Regions from separate parts of the Homo sapiens genome. Here region 2 is reported to be linked to region 1. Evidence: microRNA targets listed by miRTarBase, many of them from high-throughput screens and not tested one by one. Region 1 holds a microRNA gene; the other region holds the end of a gene's coding sequence.

Region 1 (4,152 bases):
GTAAAACCACAGGCTTGTTTTTAGATTTTAGCAAAAAGTATCAGGGATATGGGGGGGAAAAGTATCTTGTAAGTTGAGGAAGTTAGCGAACGGGTAGGTAGATTACAGGCAATAGGGAAGAATGTGTGTACAGACGGAAAGCCATTTCCCCCAGGGCTTTAGCAATTAATTTATTTCAGCTCTATGACAACTCTAATTTTAGTTTTGGAGGGTATTATTTCCATTCTGGCTGTTTTGAGAGAACTTCCATTCTACTGACAATTCTTGATCTGTTGACCATCAGAAGTCATAGACTTGAAACAGAACGGTTTATAATTCCTGTTTGGCACTCCTTGTCAATGTGGATAAACTGACTTGTGCCTTTGAAGTCCTGGGCATGGGAGGGTTGGGTGTACCAACCAGTGCTCTTTTTCCAAAGACAAAATCAATTCTCACACGCTGGGTATGAGTTATGCCTTATCTGGGGGTGGGGGAGCATCTTAGGAAATTAAATGGAAACTTAAAGAGTCTGCTAAGAAAAGCAGAAATGTAATCTACCGCCTTGACCTCTCAAGAGATTAGATATTCAGGGTCATGACAAAGCTGCTTATGTTGGAATACACAGTGCAGCTATCTTACTTTCACAGACTGTTTACCCTGAGCAGTTTCTCAGCCCAAATCCAGAAAGGAGTACTAAATGGGGCTTCATTTAGGCAGGAGGGCTGAAAATCAGGAGTAGCTCTCTGCTTGAGGACATGTGATAAGTTACTACACACACACACTCTTTAAAACATGAGATATAGCACATATATATTTTTTGAACATTTTACTGGTTGGGGGTAGTGGGTAGATGGTAGAGCTTTTGGAGTAAATAAGAAAGAAGTTATTTTTTTCCTGGGAAGCCTTGATAAAAGTCAACGAAAGAGTGTCCAGCATTTAAGTCATGTCCCTTTTATTTATATAAAGTCCTCTTCAGCAGGTATTGGGAAGACCACAAGGGTAGGGGCTAAGGGGTTAAAGTCGGGGAGCAGAGGCAGAAGATTATATGTTGAAATAATGTATTTTTTTTCCTTAAGATTAGAATGATGAACAAATATGGTGAGTGCTATGGCAGACAGAGGTTTGATTATAGTCTCGGTCAGCTTTGTGCCTATGTGAAGGGCAATGTAATCATTGCATGGTAACAGCAATCTCCCACCCCATCTTACCAGGTTTTGGTTTGTAGATGAGTGGACAATGTTACCTGACTGCTTACAGTGGGTCTCTGCTTTTCCTACAGGATGAGGGAGTGGTGGGTCCAGGTGGGGCTGCTGGCCGTGCCCCTGCTTGCTGCGTACCTGCACATCCCACCCCCTCAGCTCTCCCCTGCCCTTCACTCATGGAAGTCTTCAGGCAAGTTTTTCACTTACAAGGGACTGCGTATCTTCTACCAAGGTAAGAAGTGGACTATTGGAAGTCCTGCGTGTATCGGTCACATAAGTCCCAGCTGAGGTATTTATTTTGTGGCTATTGGTCTCTTGTTGCTCCTTAATGATGGAGGAGAGTATCTCTCTCTCTTTCTGTGTAGTGTGCTTGCAGAGAAGCGCAGAAAACTGCTGGGAGAATGGGGGTAGGGACTGAGATTCCAACCTGCAGACCTTACCTTTTAGTATAAGTTTTCTTTGTAGCTTGATATGTATTCCAATATTAGTTTTTTTTTTTTTTTGAGCAACCTGTCAGGTAATATATAAAATATTAATAGATATAACCACCATTGGTTCTCTCTCCTTACCATCCCTGATTTCATTTTTTCTGTAGATTATTTGTAGTGTAACTGTGATTTAAGTCTTGATACCATTATATAAATTAATTTGCTAGTGATGATGATTATTATGACCACTACTTATCAAGTAATTACCATATGCCAGGCACTGAGTTATGTTTTCAGCCTTCATTGTTTAATCTTTACAACAGCATTTGGAGATAGGTGCCATTAACCTCATTTTATAGGTGAAGAAACTGAGAAACAGATTGGAAATGATTTGTTTTGAGCGGGGGTCAAGAGCAATAACGAAAAATGTTTGTCATAAACCGTTTTTCATTATTGCTCCTGACCTCCTCTCATTTGCTATATTCAATTAAGTAAGTATACAATTTTTATTATGTTGGCTTGGGTTACTTCCAGTTTTACTGTTTTAGAAAACTAATGTTGAAGTAAAAGCTTCATGTCCATACAGTTTATTTTTTCCTTACATTTTCAAACTATACTACTTGTATAAATGGAATGATTTTATTTGCACAGATTCTCAAGAACAAAACTCTTAGGCTAAAGTATATACAATTTTTAACTGCTTCTAAATTATTTTTGAAAACCTTATTACCAAATTTTCATGTCACTGGCAGTATATGAATATACCTGTTCTAATCCCATACTATTAGCAAGGTTAATATTGTCTAAATGTTTACCTAATTTAGATGATGCTGAATGCTTCCATATTGTCATATGCATTAAAAAAGTTCATGTTTATGTTGATTAAGCCCTTTTTATAGTTGACAGGATTTTGTAATAGTTTTATTATGTTTTTGATGTTAGATTGGGTCTCCTGCTGAATAAAAAGTGCTGAGCAAACAGCATAAGCTAAAGGTGTTCCTTGGGAATAGTTGCTGTATCTTAGAGAATTTCTGTGAGGCCATTCATGATAAAGTACAAAGAATTTGTAGTTTATGTGTTGTGATCATATGCTTTTAACTGAAAATTTACTTTTCACTGAAAAAATTTGCATATTACAGAACAAAAGGAGAAATGGGGAGATGCTGTTTAAAAACACCTAGGTGAAAGTAAACAAGGTGCCTTCAAGTATTTTCACATAGCATGATTTTTACAATGTTTTAATATACAGATTGAAAGGAGAAAAGGCCTGTTCTCACCTAACGCAGTTAAGCTTACATTTTACAAATAATTGTGTCATTTTAATGTCAATTTGGTCACAGTTGCTTGTTCTTTGTATCAGATTACTTAGATTTTAACATCTTCGAGGTTATTTTTATAGGGATTTGGCATAATTGATTGTACTTTCCTTCTTCCTAGACTCTGTGGGTGTGGTTGGAAGTCCAGAGATAGTTGTGCTTTTACACGGTTTTCCAACATCCAGCTACGACTGGTACAAGGTAATGAAGTCAGACTTCTACGTCCTACTATGTCTTAAAAAATCTCGGCCGGGCGCGGGGGCTCAAATCCTAGCACTTTGGGAGGCTGAGGTGGGAGGATGACCTGAGGTCAGGAGTTTGAGACCAGCCAGGCCAACATGGCAAAACCCCATCTCTACTAAAAGTATAAAAATTGGCCAGGCATGGTGGCACAAGCCTGTAATCCCAGCTACTTGGGAGGCTGAGGCAGGAGAATCGCTTGAACCCGGGAGGCAGAGGTTGCAGTGAGCTGAGATTGCACCACTGCACTTCAGCCTAGGTGACAGAGCGAGAGTCTGTCTCAAAAAAAAATTTTTTTTTAATAAAAATTTAAAAAACCTCAAGGATTTTGTTGTCAGCACCAGAAGGCTCTTGCACATTTGAATTGCTTTTAAAAAAACATTAAATGTTGAACTGTTCCTTATTTACTGAAGGGAATAAACAACTCCTTGGCACTCTGGAAGGGATCACTGCCAAGTTACCCTCCCTCAACAGGGATTAATTACCAGGAATAAAGCATTTTCCAAGAGGATCATCTGTGGGACCTGTGGTAGTTTCATGGCGTTTTCTCTTTATGGAAGTCTGTTAAGCCAAGATAGGGCTGAAGCTCCTGTGCAACTGTAGGTCTGGTGAAAGGGAGGGGCAGGAGCAGAAAGCCCAAATCATCGTTTCTTTCTTGTAGATTTGGGAAGGTCTGACCTTGAGGTTTCATCGGGTGATTGCCCTTGATTTCTTAGGCTTTGGCTTCAGTGACAAACCGGTAAGCAGCACCTATGTGGGGCTGGTGATGGGGTGTGGGGGCAGACGCAGACTATGAGGGTCAGGCTGGCAGAGAGAGCTGTCCTCATGACTTCATCCTGTGTATGTGGGCTTTCCTTTCCTCAGAGACCACATCACTATTCCATATTTGAGCAGGCCAGCATCGTGGAAGCGCTTTTGCGGCATCTGGGGCTCCAGAACCGCAGGATCAACCTTCTTTCTCATGACTATGGAGATATTGTTGCTCAG
Region 2 (4,000 bases), not on the chromosome of region 1:
ATTATTTCTTTTCCTTTGGGTAGTGATATGATTTGGTTCTGTATCGCTACCCAAATCTCATCAGTAGCTCCCATAATTCCCATGAGTTGTGGGAGGGACGCAGTAGGAGATGATTGAATCATGGGGGTGGGTCTTTCCCATGCTGTTCTTGTGATAGTGAATGGGTCTTATGAGACCTGATGGTTTTTAAAATGGGAGTTTCTCTACATAAGCTCTCTCTCTGCCTGCTGCCATCCATGCAAGATGTGACTTGCTCCTCCTTGCCTTCTGCCATGATTGTGAGGCCCCTCCAGCCAGGTGGAACTGTAAGTCCAATAAATCTCTTTCTTTTGTAAAATGCCCAGTCTTGGGTAGGTCTTTATCAGTGGCGTGAAAATGGATTAATACAGTAAATTAGTACCAGTTAGAATGAGTCATTGCTGAAAAGATACCTGAAAATGTGGAAGTGACTTTGGAACCGGGTAACAGGCAGAGGTTGGAACCATTTGGAAGGCTCAGAAGAAGACAGGAAGATGTGGGAAAGTTTGGAACTTCCTAGAGACTTCTTGAATGGCTTTGACCAAAATGCTGATAGTGATATGAACAATAAGGTCCAGGCTGAGGTGGTCTCAGATGGGGTTGAAGAACTTGTTGGGAACTGGAGTAAAGGTGACTCTTGCTATGTTTTATCTAAGAGACTGGTGGCATTTTGCCCCTGCCCTAGAGATTTGTGGAACTTTGAACTTGAGAGAGATCATTTAGGACATCTGGATGTTGGGAATGAAGTTTTTGGTGTCGAAAAAAAAAAAAAAAAAGAATGCAGGAACAAACAATCTCTCAGCCAGGTGAGCTTTACTTTCTGCAGAAAGGGTGCTACTCAGTAGCCATCCAGCCACGAGAGCACACCAAACAAAGGAGACAGAGTAATTTATAACCTGACATGTCTACCCTACTGCTGTGTCCAGTTTTCATTGGCTGGAATAGGACCTCACATTTTACACTTTACCTGATTGGTTATTAGTTTAAAACTTTCTTAATTAGGTAAGGGGAATAGAACAAAGAAAGAAAAGGAAGTTGCCCAGGGATACTTAAGGAAGCATCTCCAAATAAGGAGTGGCATGCACTATGGGCTGGGGCTTGTCTACTTCTGTCCAGGCATGCCGGAGCAAGCTAGGACAGCTGATTTGGAATATATATATATAATCCATTATATATATATATAAAATCCATTATATATATATATATATAAATAATCCACTATATATATATAATCCACTATATATATATATATAATCCACTATATATATATAGCAATCTTATAGTAAGAAATTGTGACTTTTTATAATCTTTGAAAAAGAACTCCCATTTCTCACATGGAGGAAGAAATTTCTAAGCAGTAAAGCTTTCAAGAGGTGACTTGGGTTGTTTTATGAAAGAAACAGAGCATAAAAGTTTGGAAAATTTGCAGCCTGTCAACGTGATAGAAAGAAAAACCTATCTTCTGAGGAGAAATTGAAGCTGGCTGCAGAAACTTGCATAAGTAATGAGGAGATGAATGTTAATCTCCAAGACAATGGGGAAAATGTCTCCAGTCTGTGTCAAGAGTTTTCACCAGAGCCCCTCCCATCACAGGCCTGGAGGCCTAGGAGAAAATGGTTTCCTGGGCCAGGCCCAGGTTCTGTTAGGCATACAGATACATAACAAGTTAGTCATGTGTGGGAATTAATAAATGAAGAAATTGTACTTGTAAATGCATCAAATGTTCACAAATCCAAGGTCAGTTTTCTTATTTTAAAAATAGAAGCAATGCCAGCTCCACAGGAATGGTTTTGAATATCAAATACTTACATGAAAGGACTTTGGAAGCTATGAAATACAACACAAATGTACAATAATAATAATAAATAACGTCACTGTAGAGAACTAGCCCTTTTCTCTACCTAAGGCTTTTTCTCAGGGGACTGGTGGAACAGAGGCTGACTTCATAGATAGAAAAATATCTAATTTCTACAAACAGGAGCTCTTTGAAAAAAAAAACAAAGCAAAGGAAACAAACCAAACAGAAACATTCAAATCCAAGAGGATAGCTCAGGGCTTTTTAATATAATTCTCATCTTGCCCTACTTCGAACAGGTTTTTAACAGAATATTGATACAACTAAAGAACAACAGAGTAAATACACATAGCATTTATACCATTTGAGGTATTTGGCTATGCTAGGTTTTTTTTTTTTTCTTTCCCTCAGTGGAACCACACATTGAGAAATATAGCTTTAGAACACAATATTCTATCAAAACCAGAAAACAGAGATTGTTTTATTTGAAAACATCAGATATGCAGTGATTCTTTCAATGTCATTTCTTTCACTTAAACCTTCAGGTTTATTAAGCCTCTGATTCTCAATTAGAATAAGTTCCCTAAGTCCCTGTCATAAATAGAATTATATCAACCTTTCACATCTCAGTCACATTGAGTTCTAATAAGTGTGCAACAATAAGACAGCTGAGTATGGAATGGCAATTGGAAAAATATTATACATTGCTTTTTGCCTATTTTAAAATTGAGTAATAAAAGGTATTTATTATTTTGCCATATAAGGTGCTGAGTTCAGGAATATTTTCATGGGAATCAAGTTTTTCCCTCAGGTGTTTGCTTAGTGTACTTCACAACTACTATTGATTCCTTTACAAAGTTGATCCATGAATATTCATTGATGGAAGAGGTCTTAGTGGTCATCTAGTGCTATCCATTTATTTTATAGATAAAGAAATCTCCTATGCTAGGTATTTTTATTTAGTTCATTTATTAGTATTACTAGTGGTAAGCAGTTATCTTATTAATCTGTTAACTTTTACTATACCTATTGAATAACAAGTTAATAGTTTTTAAAAAATTTATTTATTTTATCATATAAATTTGGAAGCACCCAGATTCCTCTACCACAACTAATTAAAATTATGGCATTTATTAGCCCTTGGTGGCAGAAAATTACAGCAAGTCTTTAATGAAATATTGAACATTAATTATAAATAATAAGTTTGCATCCTAGCAGGATGTACAGGTACCACTTAAACTATTCCAAAAACCACAAAGACAAATAATAATATTAGATACCTTAATATCACATGAAAATACCACTACCACCAATAAAAACTATGACAGTAACAGTAAAAACAAAAAAATACAAATTTTATTCAATGGTTGTTATGAACTTGGAATGATCTTAAGCACCTTACTATTTAAAACACAGAGATGGAAACATGTTTAGAAAATGAAAATTCCCTACTTTATTAGAATAACATGGTGAAATCTTAAGATTAATTAGACTGGTCAAATGTTTTTCAGTGTTTTTCCTGTCATGTCTTTATCTGTTCTTAGTGTCAAAGAGCCCACCTTACATGTTTTTTGTTTCTTTGTTTTACAAATTTAAATTGATTGAATAAGTATAGGAGAGAAGGGAATAAAAAACATTCCAATGGTGGTTTGCATATTTTCTTTCTTGTTAAAACTCAGTGTTTTACTTTTTTTTTTTTTCTGTCTTTTTTTGTATTACACTTTTGGTTTATATTGGTGATACATCTTTTTCCTCCTCTTTCTACTCTTATTTTTCCTCTTCCTCCATCTTTTCTTTTTGTGTTTCCTCCTCCTCCTCCTCTCTCTCTTCTTTTTCCTCCTCCATTTCCATTATTTCCATTTCCATTTCCTCTTTCTCTTTCTTCTCTTCCTCTTTTTCCTCCTCTTCATTCCCTGCTTCAGATTCCTCAGGGGTAAATATCATTTGTTGTTCCAACAAGATATTTGGAAACTGAGACTGTACTATCAAAACAGTTATGACACACAGGATAAAACATAATATTCTCAATAATAAAATGAATGTGCACAGTGGATCACACACAACTGGCCGGGGCATTTCCCATTTTGGATACCAAAATCGGTAATCTGTAAACAAAGAAGCAATTGAAAGCTGGATTTCATATAAAGCAGTTCAATTGTTCAAGAAATAAAGGACAACAATACATAC

What was found. The annotated mature microRNA hsa-miR-335-3p reads UUUUUCAUUAUUGCUCCUGACC and lies in region 1 at 2,053-2,074, shown strand. An mRNA with a match to its seed (bases 2 to 7 or 8) in the 3' UTR can be bound and repressed. Matches are read on the target gene's strand: a 7mer-m8 pairs with bases 2 to 8, a 7mer-A1 pairs with bases 2 to 7 and ends in A, and an 8mer does both.
Region 2: the mRNA of GLIPR1L2 is a reported target of hsa-miR-335-3p. Seed matches in the 3' UTR shown: 7mer-A1 at 3,317-3,323 and 7mer-m8 at 2,596-2,602.

Annotation. Positions count from the first base shown.
Region 1 is chr7:130,494,110-130,498,261 of GRCh38, forward strand. MIR335 (microRNA 335) reads left to right here and starts at 2,002; the gene lies at 2,002-2,095. It overlaps MEST (mesoderm specific transcript), which reads left to right. Exons shown (of 12, transcript NM_002402.4): 2 at 1,259-1,413; 3 at 3,047-3,126; 4 at 3,827-3,904; 5 at 4,030-4,152.
Region 2 is chr12:75,430,742-75,434,741 of GRCh38, reverse strand. GLIPR1L2 (GLIPR1 like 2) reads right to left here. Exons shown (of 6, transcript NM_001270396.2): 6 at 2,054-3,918. The coding sequence ends at 3,581. Among named protein-coding and RNA genes, the nearest start is that of GLIPR1L2, 42 kb to the right of the region's middle.